Linked DNA regions of Homo sapiens. The protein of the gene in region 3 interacts with the protein of the main gene of each other region in a biochemical or structural test. Each region holds a gene or a part of one and is shown on either strand. Other genes may lie near its edges. The genes, in order: RPA1, CDC25C and CDK1.

Region 1 (3,731 bases), on a different chromosome or scaffold from region 3:
ACGAATGCCTAGAAGGGTGTGGCACATGCCGTGGAAACCCAGTAAATAAATACTGGATAGATGGTGTATTGATATTTTTAGCCAAATTCTATTCTGAAGAAATGTTTTGATGTAGAGGGTATGAAATCACTGAACTAAATTATATTTTCTGAATTTGGACGTTGAGTTTTGCAGATACGTGGTGCGTATAAAAGAACTCACCTGATTCCCTGTTCTTTCCCAGCGCAGGGCAGCTGCTTAGGTTTGGATTAAGGAGGCGGAAGGGTCTTAGTGGTCACCCACTTAACATATCTTGACCAAAAACTGATTCCTGCCCTTTGCACCCGACGAAACTCATTCTTACAGACTTCATTCTAGACTTGCTAGTCCTTCAGACGCATTGAGATCTGGGAGTTGTCTGGGGATTTGGAGGCGATCTATTTGTGATAGGTCCCTTACATCCTGTCTTTCTTCATGTGACTAGTGCCTTGCCATCAGTTTTACCAGTTACAAAAGTTGATTTTCTTTTTCTCACCCATTATCTTGCCCGTTGAGGCAAGAGAAGTGTTTAAGAGGGCGGCCTTCAGAAACAGCAGTGTCTGGATTCGTCACCATTATTACTTTGACCTCGGGGCTGACATCAGCAAACATAGCAGTGAGCTGCTGTGTGCGCAGCCTTCATCCTAGATTGCTTTTGTAGCCTCCAGCCTCAGTCTCTATTTGATCTGCGTATCTCTTGCATATAAAAAGGAAAAGCTTTGCCTCTCATGTTATATGATTTCACTAGTGGCACCTCCAAAATTTAGAGTTATTGTAAAGCTTACTATAAAAAAGCTAAGTAGAATAGTAATAACTCCTTTTCGTTTGCGTTTGTTTTTAAAGGTTCTACTGTTTCTAAGGCTTATGGTGCTTCAAAGACATTTGGAAAAGCTGCAGGTCCCAGCCTGTCACACACTTCTGGGGGAACACAGTCCAAAGTGGTGCCCATTGCCAGCCTCACTCCTTACCAGTCCAAGTGAGTTGTTGCATAGAGTAAGTTCAGAGTGTACTTATGAAATCGGAGAAGCTATTATGGACTCTTGAGTTATTTATGCGTGAACTTCAGGGTCACCACCAAATACCACCAAATAGAATGGGTTTACTCTTTTTTTTTTTTTTTTTTGCTGAGGAGGAAAGGGGTACAAATTGTGGCAAACTTTTAACTCTTGTTGGAAAATATAGTAACAATAGCAATCTGCCATAGCCTGTGGGGTTTCATTCATTTTGAAAGAATTTGAAATTAAAAATACTTAATGCTTAATCAGTTGATAGTCTTATGAGTAAAAATAAATATTTCTGATAATTCAAAAGGCATTTAATCTTCTCCTATAAACAGGTGACTTCGTCTTTGGTTTAGTTGGCTAAAATAATCTGCACTATTTGTATTAAACACATGAACATACCCTGAACATAAATTTCTTTTATATGACTTTTTTCCACCAAAAATTAATTTGAAGCCGGGCGCGGTGGCTCATGCCCGTAATCCCCGCACTTTAGGAGGCTGAGGCGGGTGGATCACCTGAGGTCGGGAGTTTGAGACCAGCCTGGCCAACATGGTGAAACCGTGTCTCTACTAAAAATACAAAAATTAGCCAGGTGTTGTGGAGCACGCCTGTAATCCCCGCTACTCAGGAGGCTGAGGCAGAAGAATCGCTTGAACCCAGGAGGCGGAGGTTGCAGTGAGCCAAGATTGTGCCACTGCCTTCCAGCCTGAGTAACAGAGTGAGATTCCGTCTCTCAAGATAAATAAACAAAATAAAGTAATTTGAATAGTTAAAAATTAGAGTTCTTTTTTCAGAATCCTTCCAGATATGTTTATATTTATTCTTCAATACTCTGTAACGTAGGAAAGATATTTTTCCCTGTGAAATTATAAGTGGGGTACCTAATGTGCCCTGTGCCTCCTTTTTCCATGCTTCTCTCTAAGGTCATGCTGCTTCAGTGTGTTCTTCCTGATGGTCCACCAACATCGTGTATTCTATTCAGGGTGTGTTACGAATGAGACAGAAGTGTAACACCAGTTATATCAGTTCCCATAATTGAAAACTGTGGCAAAATATAATTGCTGGTGTTACTGTATTTTCCAGCTTAGAACCTTTCATTAAGGGGATATGGTTGCCTTGGTGATGCTTTTTGGAGAAGGGAGAGAGTTTATAAATTTACTTATTTGACAGGAGAATGAGTTAGTATTAAATCACTTTGCATGTTTTACTATTTGCTTATTCTGTAAACTGTCAAACCCATGTGTCATCTTGGGGTTTTAATTAGCTGGATTAAAATACAGGTTGGAAAACGGAATATGCGTAAGACGAGAAAGGCTGTAGGAAGATGATTTCTTACTTGATCTTTTCCAAGGAAGACCCCATACACTAATATGATCGATTTGGTTTGTAGGTGGACCATTTGTGCTCGTGTTACCAACAAAAGTCAGATCCGTACCTGGAGCAACTCCCGAGGGGAAGGGAAGCTTTTCTCCCTAGAACTGGTTGACGAAAGTGTGAGTGTTTGTCATGCTGGGGAGTGAGGGCAGTGGGCTCGCCGGGAAACAGAAGGCTCAGCTCTGCGGAGGGCAGTGGGCTCGCTGGGAAACAGAAGGCTCAGCTCTGCGGAGGGCAGTGGGCTCGCCGAGAAACAGAAGGCTCAGCTCTGCGGGCCTATGAGGTGAAGAATAATAGTAGGCCAGAGAGAAGCATGATTGTTATTGTGCTTTTCCCTCTGTCATAGTCTTTTGATGCTGTCTGGAGTAGAGGGTTAAGGTCATAAATAAAATCTTTGATCTTAAATGACAGCGTTTGTAGCAGTAGAAAGTAGTTTTCTAAATATATAAGTAGCCTCCTGGGCAGGAGAAGCTGGAAACAGTCTGATTTGCTGGCAGGTGTACTGGAAGCACTGGGAGGTGATGCCTGCTTGTGAGCGCCGTGGAGCTTTGGGACACAGCAGAAGGCACACAGTTGTGACCTCGATATGGGAGTGGTTTTGTGGGAAATGGGTTCTGACTGTGCAGATTCTCTATTTGCTTTATTTAAACTAAACAAAACCATGACGATGAGACAAAATTCCTATGCCATGGAAGTACGACAGTCTTGATAGCTGTTAATCAGTCCATTCGTTTTGCTAATAATTCCTGAAATTGCCGGGTGTGGTGGCTCACGCCTGTAATCCCAACACTTTGGGAGGCCAGGGTGCACAGATCACTTGAGGTCAGGAGTTCGAGACCAGCCTGGCCAACATAGTGAAACCCCGTTTATACTAAAAATACAAAAATTAGCTGGGTATGGTGGCAGGTGCCTGTAGTCCCAGCTACTTGGGAGGCTGAGGCAGGAGAATCAATCGCCTGAACCAAGGAGGTGGAGGTTGGAGCCAGCCAAGATTGCACCACTGCACTCCAGCCTGGGCGACAGAGTGAGACTCCATCTCAAAAATAATAATAATTCCTAAAATGTACTTCAGCATTCTTTTCAAAGTGCTGCAGATTTCCTGTTTGTTCAGACTCCCAAATAGGGAGAAAAAAATAGATGTTTTTTTTGGAAGTTGATATAACACCCAAAATGTTTGTGTGATGGCAGAATCAATATTAGAACCTAATTTTTTTTTAGAAATTATTGCTCTAATGTATGGTGGTTGGCTAAAATTTCTTGTCCACTTGTAAATTTTGGCTGACAGAAAAGCAAAAGTGAAAATCAGATCACAAGCAACTTGCAAACATGACTTAC
Region 2 (3,731 bases), on a different chromosome or scaffold from region 3:
GATGGATCACTTAAGCCCGGGAGTTCGAGACCAGCCTGGACAACATGGTAAAACCCTCTCTCTATAAAAAATACAGAAATTGGCTGGGCATGGTGATGCGCATCTGTAGTCCCAGTTACTCAGGAGGCTGAGTTGGGAGGATCGCTTGAGCCTGAGAGGCAGAGGTTGCAGTGAGCTAAGATTGTGCCACTGCACTCCAACCAGAGTGACAGCGAGACCCTATCTCAAAAAAAAAAAAAAAAAGATAAGTTTCAATTAGCTAATTAATTCCAAACTCTTAGTAATATGGCTCTTAGCATAATTATTATGGTGTGTTCTAGAGAAGCCCCTTTTGAAATCCTCATCTAGCTTTCCCCTGCCTTCTCAGGGGAAAATTGAAGTTATATGAAGTCCTGTCTGTCATGGAGACCAGGCACCCTACTCCTCAGTGCCTCACCATATCTCCTTTCCTACCCTACCTTTGGTTGATCCATTCATGCATCACTGGCTTCGTGGCCTTGACTGTATCTCTTGGCTTCTTCCTTTTGGGCTTTGGCTTCTGCTACTGCCTAATTATTTCTCCATCTTCCAAGTTAGGCAACCAAGAGAGGGAACCTGATTGGCCTAGATTATTTTTGCTTATTCTAGACCACTAAATAGATGTGTTCAACCAGCAATATGGTCCAGTCATCAGTGTCTGGGGGGTAGGGTGGATGGGGACATAGGGCGATGTTTGGAAGGAGTCTAAGGGTACGTATAATGTGGACGGTACCATCAGCTGGTATCACGAACAAGAGGTAGGACCATGTGTGTGATAAACAACATAATATCCATAGCTGTCATAAAGCAAAATGTTGTTATTCTTATTTCGTTCTTCCAGAAACCATTGATCATCAAGCTGCCTTCCAGTTATGGCTCTCTTATTGTATAGCCCCCCTCCTAAATCAGTCCATAACAGGTAGTGCGATAAGTGTTTAGAGAAGGAGCTTTTGCCTGTTCTCTAGGTGAGAGGTAGAGATCTCAAAGTATGTGGCAACAGAGGATAGAATTGTGGATTAGTTGGAAGGTGTTATCAGAGGTCATTTGATAGACCCTCAACTCTGAATATAGCACCCAAACCATGCCTTTCAAATAAACAACAGTCTATCCTCTTATACTTTAATCTGTTCCTGTGTAAGCAATTCTCAAGGCTAGTTCTTCATGACGTTTGAGCCACTTTTTTTTCCCTGATGGGTTTCATAGTATCCATCCTATAATGGTCAGCATGCTATTTGATTTTAGTGTGTCCTTTTTTCTTGCATGATGCTTCTTTTGCTATTTTTCTTCTTGGCTTTTCATCTTTAGGTTTGTTGAGGTCCTTAAATCCTGATTGTCAATGTCCTAGGATCCCAGAGACAAAATGGACTTATGTTTTTTTTTTTTTTTTTTTTTTTGGTCACATAACTGGAGGGACTGAGCTTGTGTTTGCTTTCTGTTAGAAGAACTGGTGCATCTAAGACAGTCAGCTGCAGAATTTGGTTTGGCTAGTTAAGACGTCCATGGAGATGGAATATCATGCAGTCCAGGTAGAAAGATATTAACGGGCCTATGAAGACAGGTTGCCTACCCAAGGCTTCTCAAACTTGAGAAATCACCTGGGCATCTTGTTAAAATGCAGATTTTAATTCAGTAGGTTTGGGGTGTGGCCTAACATCTGGAAACCTGCATTTCAAAGAAGCTCCCAGGAGATGTTGTTGCTGCAGGTCTGCAGACACACTTGGAGGAGTAAGAACTAGGGGGTTTAATATTCCCAAACAGGTGAGCAGAAGTGGCCTATATCGCTCCCCGTCGATGCCAGAGAACTTGAACAGGCCAAGACTGAAGCAGGTGGAAAAATTCAAGGACAACACAATACCAGATAAAGTTAAAAAAAAGTATTTTTCTGGCCAAGGAAAGCTCAGGAAGGTAAGAACTTTTTAAGATGAAAATCTTGTTCATCTTCTATCTCATGTCTTTGCTTTTCTGGTATGAGGATTGTTTTATTATGCCTTTTTTGTCTTCTTCCTCTTTACTTTTACTTTTTCCTCTTTGTTCTTTCCATCTTTCTGTCTTTTCTACATCTGTATCCACGTGAAATATATATATATATATAAAATATTTATATAACATAGATACATAAAGTATATCTATATTGTACTTTTAGAAATGTTGTCATAGGCCGGGTGCAGTGGCTCACGCCTATAATCCTAGCACTTTGGGAGGCCGAGGCGGGCGGATTGCCTGAGCTCAGGAGTTCAAGACCAGACTGGGCAACACGGTGAAACCCCGTCTCTACTAAAATACAAGAAATCAGCTGGGCGTGGCAGCATGTGCCTGTAGTCCCGGCTACTCAGGAGGCTGAGGCAGGAGAATCGCTTGAACCCGGGAGGTGGAGGTTGCAGTGAGCCAAGATTGTGCCACTGCACTCCAGCCTGGGCAACAGAGCAAGACTCCGTCTCAAAAAAAAAAAAAAAAAGAGAAATGTTGTCATCATACCGTCTTCCCAACCCTTTTTCTTAAGATCTGAAAGAATACAAGGGAACTTTGGTATGGATATTTTACTGCTGTTTTACATGCAGTCTGACAGAAACAACATCATATAGCAGGTTGGTTTTGTGGAAAGCAACTTCTGAAAAACTTAGCCTTTGTCCTTTACCCTCCCCAACTTTAAAAAAATTAAATAGATGGGAGGATCACTTAAGGTCAGAAGTTCAAGACCAGCCTGGTCAATATAGCATGACCCCATCTCTAATAAAAAAAAATAAAATAAAAAATTAAAATTCTAAAATCTTTGGATATTTTATAAAATCAACTTATTTATTTATTTATTTATTTTCCCCTGAGATGGGGTCTCACTCTGTCACCCAGGCTGGATTGCAGTGGCATGGTCTTGACTCACTGCAGCCTCAATATTTATTTATTATTAAAAATAATAAATAAACAAATGGAGTCTCACTCTGTCTCCCAGACTGGAGTGCAGTGGTGCAATCGTAGCTCACTATAGCCTTGGCCTCCTGGGCTCAAGTGATCTCCCTACCTCAGCCTCCCATGTAGCTAGGATTACAGATGTGCGCCACCATGGCCCACTCCATCCACTGGTTTTTAAACCTTTAACATGAGGATTGGGTGTGGGGTGGGAATCTTGTCATCTTCAGGGCTTATGTTTAAAGAAGACAGTCTCTCTGTGTGACATTACTATCACTCAGATGCTGGAGGAAGATTCTAACCAGGGGCACCTGATTGGTGATTTTTCCAAGGTGAGTTTGGCTACACCCATCCTGTATTTCAGTGAGTCATTTTGGATCTGAATCTTCTCTGTTTGCCGAGAATGCCTGGTGTAAATATGCATCCTCACCAAGTACTCTTTGGTAACCTGACAGTGCTCTAGTGGTAGATCCAGGCCCTAAGCCTTTCCAGAGAGAAAGTATTTCTTATTCTTCTGGGAAGATCCAGAACAGGGGAAAGTATGAGACTTTTTACCTTTTTTCTGTTTAAAAACATATTTTAAAATTATGTAAATAATACTTGGTTGTTACAGAAAAAGTAGAAAATGAAGAAATTTATCCCAAACTTTATTAACCAGGGTAATATTGCTTAGTATATACTCTTTTTTTCCCCCCTACTGTCTGTGTAATTGCAGAAGGTACATATTCTTACAGATTTTTTTCTGTGTTTTCACAAACACATATACAAATACAGTTTTTGCTTTTCTACAAAAACAGTTTATATTGTTT
Region 3 (3,500 bases):
TCCTCCTGCCATGTCCCTCTAGTACCCTCTACCTTAACAACATAGCAGCTGGTAAAGAAAAAATACTTAAAGGCTTCAGTTCCATTTTCACATAGCATGCAATGAATTTGGAGCTGAGAGGCAATAAATTGATACTGCCACAGAGTAGATATCTTTTATTGAGTTATTTCTTGACTTTCACAAATACAGAAAATAATCTAGCAATCACACACATTCAAAAGCCATCAAAAACCACTATTCCACTTGCCTCATGTGTATATACTCTGATAGGTATTCCAAAAGCTCTGGCAAGGCCAAAATCAGCCAGTTTAATTGTTCCTTTGTCATCAATCAAGAGATTTTGAGGTTTTAAGTCTCTGTGAAGAACTCTTCTAGAGTGACAAAACACAATCCCCTGTAGGATTTGGTATAAATAACTCTGGAAAAAGCAAGTAAAAGTTAGAAACTTAAGCGAAGTACATGATTTTCTAAATAATCTGTTTCAAAGACAAAAAATTAGGACGCAGAGAAATAATTTAATTACTAGAGCTTTCAGGCCATTTTAGGCTAATAAGCATTTGTGGGTGGGAAGCCCATTTATATACAACATCACATTTGTATACCTAAGAAAAGAATCTTCACCTTATAGACATATCTATAGTAATGTGAACACATTTAGTCTTTAAACATTTTTGGTCCCCGATCCTTAAATTACAAATTGGTTTTCTACACAGAAGCCTCTTGATTTTTCTTCTATATACCGCTACCAACTCTATTTTGTATCTTCAATACAGTTGGCCTTTTCTATCTTTCATTTTTACATATTCATTTCCTTCTTGAAAAAATTAGATTCTAAAAGTGATGGCAAAGATATTATGATTATATATTTCAATGGATAAAATTATCATAAAATGCTGCTTAGTTCAGAGAAAAGTGCTTTACAAGACATTTGTTGCCAAAGACAATGTCATTGACATCTGAAGTAGCATGGATATTACAAAAACAAAGTACACAGAAAAATGACTTACAGTTTGAAATTGGAAAGTAATACAGATGCTCCATCTTAGAGGGACAAGTGGTGTTCAAAAAACAAAACAAAACGGATGATCCATCTGGTTAAACTCATTCTAAGCTGAAAATACCTTGTCGAAATGCATTGAACACACCTAACCTACCAAACGTAGCTAAGCGTAGCCCACCTTAATTGTGCTCAAAACACTTACATTAGCATATAGTTGGAAGTGTTGAATACCTCATTATTTATTGAATACTGTACTGAAAGTGAAAAAACAGAATGGTTGTATGGGTAAATGAAGTATGGTTTCTAGTGAATGTGCATCATTTCTGCTTCATTGTAAAACTGAAAAATTGTAAGTAAAACCATTGTTGCCTGTACATAAAACCAGTTAGAACAACTGGCTAGCCATTTGGAAAAAGATAAAGCAGAATCTGTATCCCAGTTTTTAAGTCAAAATAAATCTTAATACAGAATTTAAGACAAAAAAAGTATGTGTGGAAGACAGGACTTACTAAAACTACCAGAAAAATACTGACATGTATTATTCTAATACATTCGATCTTTGAGTGAGGAAGACTTAAGCAAGACATAAAAGCAGAAAGTCCAAAAGTCATGCAAGATTGTTAAAGAACGTATCCTAACGAAAATATAGGCGGTTTATAATAGCTAAATATGAAGTGTTAAATTGTCATGAAATATAAAATTAAAACAATCTTAATATGCCTTTTTCACATAGTTAACAGATTGATAAAACCAAGTTTTGGCAATGATGTACTAAAACAATAAGTATTACACACCATGAGTATTTAAGAGTAAATTGCTACAAGTTTTTTAGGGGGCAACCGGCAATATCTATCAAAATGTAAATAAACATCTTCAATCCATCATTCCCATTCTAAAAATTTATCCTATAAAGTTGCATACGAAGATAAATATCTATAAGGACATTCAGTGCAGTACTGTTAATAAGAGCAACAATAACCAAGTTGGAAAATAATTTAAATGTTCATCAATATGGAAGTGGTTTAATTATATCAAAAATGTAAATAGACATAGGTAGATCTACGTCTTGATAATGTTTTACACAAAAAAGGGAAAATATGTATATATACATATGCAAATAAGTCCACCTTGTGTAAAAAAAAAAATCTTTATATACATACAAAGTGAACATACATACAAGTGTAAGATTACAAATAAAACTAACAGCGCTACCTCTGCAGAGTGGTTTGGTAGAACTGGTGCAAGAATAAGACACTTTTATATACTTCAGTACTTAAAACTATACAATTTTATAATTTACCTGAAATATAATAAATGTCTACAATAAATTGACCAAAACATGTTCAAAACTGGAATAAAACACCTACAACCACCACTCTGCCCTAGGCTTTCATTACTTTGTTTTACATGTATCTGACAGCCAAAGAAAGACCAGACTACCCTAGCTTCCAACAATACCTACCAGTTCTATGTTATCTCAGGCACTAATTTTTACTTACTAGAAACACTATCTGGTAATAACATGGGTATCTCTAACCTGTATAAACTAACCATGAGGGAGAAAAATGAAATACTTTTTCTTATTCTAACACTTTTTCCAAGCATATTCCCACAAAATGCAGGGACTTCTATATATAGTCCCTTTATATCCACAGTGCATAAATATTAATAAAATTAGTTAAGCTTTTACCTTAACAAGTGAAGAATCCATGTACTGACCAGGAGGGATAGAATCCAAGTATTTCTTCAGATCCATGGAAAGAAACTCAAAGATGAGATATAACCTGGAATCCTGCATAAGCACATCCTGAAGACTGGGGAAAAAAAATATATGAGAGAAGAATCCAGCAAACATTTTTGACCTCTGTTTCACAAAATAAAACTCCTTCCATAATTTCAGTTGCTATAATAAAAACTGGGGAAGACGTAGTAGCTTCCCTAATGGAAGAGACTCAAAACTCAAATTTAAGAAAGGAATCTCAGGGCAACTATTTAAAATTAAGCCTTGTACAGGAGGTGCTTATTTATAAGGAGCCTGTATTCAAAAGAACATATCTAGGTTGGCTACTAATTGCTGAGAGCTTATTTTTTCACTGAAGTGAATTATACAAATAAATTTTAAAGTGGTATCTGACCTTAAAAGCTACTTCCAATCTCTAGCCCCAGCCAAGTACAATTAGATTTTAACTTGGACTGTTAGGAAGACAGGTCTCCAAAAACACCCAATGCAAATACTTTAAGGAAAAAAAATCTTTTTCATTTGACCTAGCTACTTTTCTTAAGACTCTAACTAAAGGGTCTTCAGGAACTAGAGCTCCCCAAGTAGGAGAGAGTTGACAAAGCTCTATGAAAACGGCTTTACTCCCATGGCCAATTTACCTTGCTATTCTAGGCCCAAATATTAATCTACATCACCCAGCTCCTCCAACTCTGTTCCTGCTTTAACAGCCTGTTCTCTTTTACATATGTGCGGCATTCTCAACTACCAAAAATAGGGTTC

The links.
Region 1: of the proteins of CDK1 (region 3) and RPA1, one has a biochemical effect on the other in vitro, tested with the Homo sapiens proteins (2 studies listed by BioGRID).
Region 2: the proteins of CDK1 (region 3) and CDC25C form a complex in vitro, tested with the Homo sapiens proteins (3 studies listed by BioGRID, with this or other methods).

Annotation. Positions count from the first base shown.
Region 1 is NC_000017.11:1,874,800-1,878,530, forward strand, and holds part of RPA1 (replication protein A 70 kDa DNA-binding subunit), read left to right. Parts: intron 1-861; coding exon 862-994; intron 995-2,412; coding exon 2,413-2,515; intron 2,516-3,731. UniProt on the Homo sapiens protein: As part of the heterotrimeric replication protein A complex (RPA/RP-A), binds and stabilizes single-stranded DNA intermediates that form during DNA replication or upon DNA stress.
Region 2 is NC_000005.10:138,290,162-138,293,892, reverse strand, and holds part of CDC25C (M-phase inducer phosphatase 3), read left to right. Parts: intron 1-1,776; coding exon 1,777-1,923; intron 1,924-3,152; coding exon 3,153-3,254; intron 3,255-3,731. UniProt on the Homo sapiens protein: Functions as a dosage-dependent inducer in mitotic control. Tyrosine protein phosphatase required for progression of the cell cycle. When phosphorylated, highly effective in activating G2 cells into prophase.
Region 3 is NC_000010.11:60,784,978-60,788,477, reverse strand, and holds part of CDK1 (cyclin-dependent kinase 1), read right to left. Parts: intron 2,815-3,500; coding exon 2,691-2,814; coding exon of another isoform or gene 2,679-2,690; exon of another isoform or gene 1,409-2,678; intron 419-1,408; coding exon 248-418; intron 1-247. UniProt on the Homo sapiens protein: Plays a key role in the control of the eukaryotic cell cycle by modulating the centrosome cycle as well as mitotic onset; promotes G2-M transition via association with multiple interphase cyclins.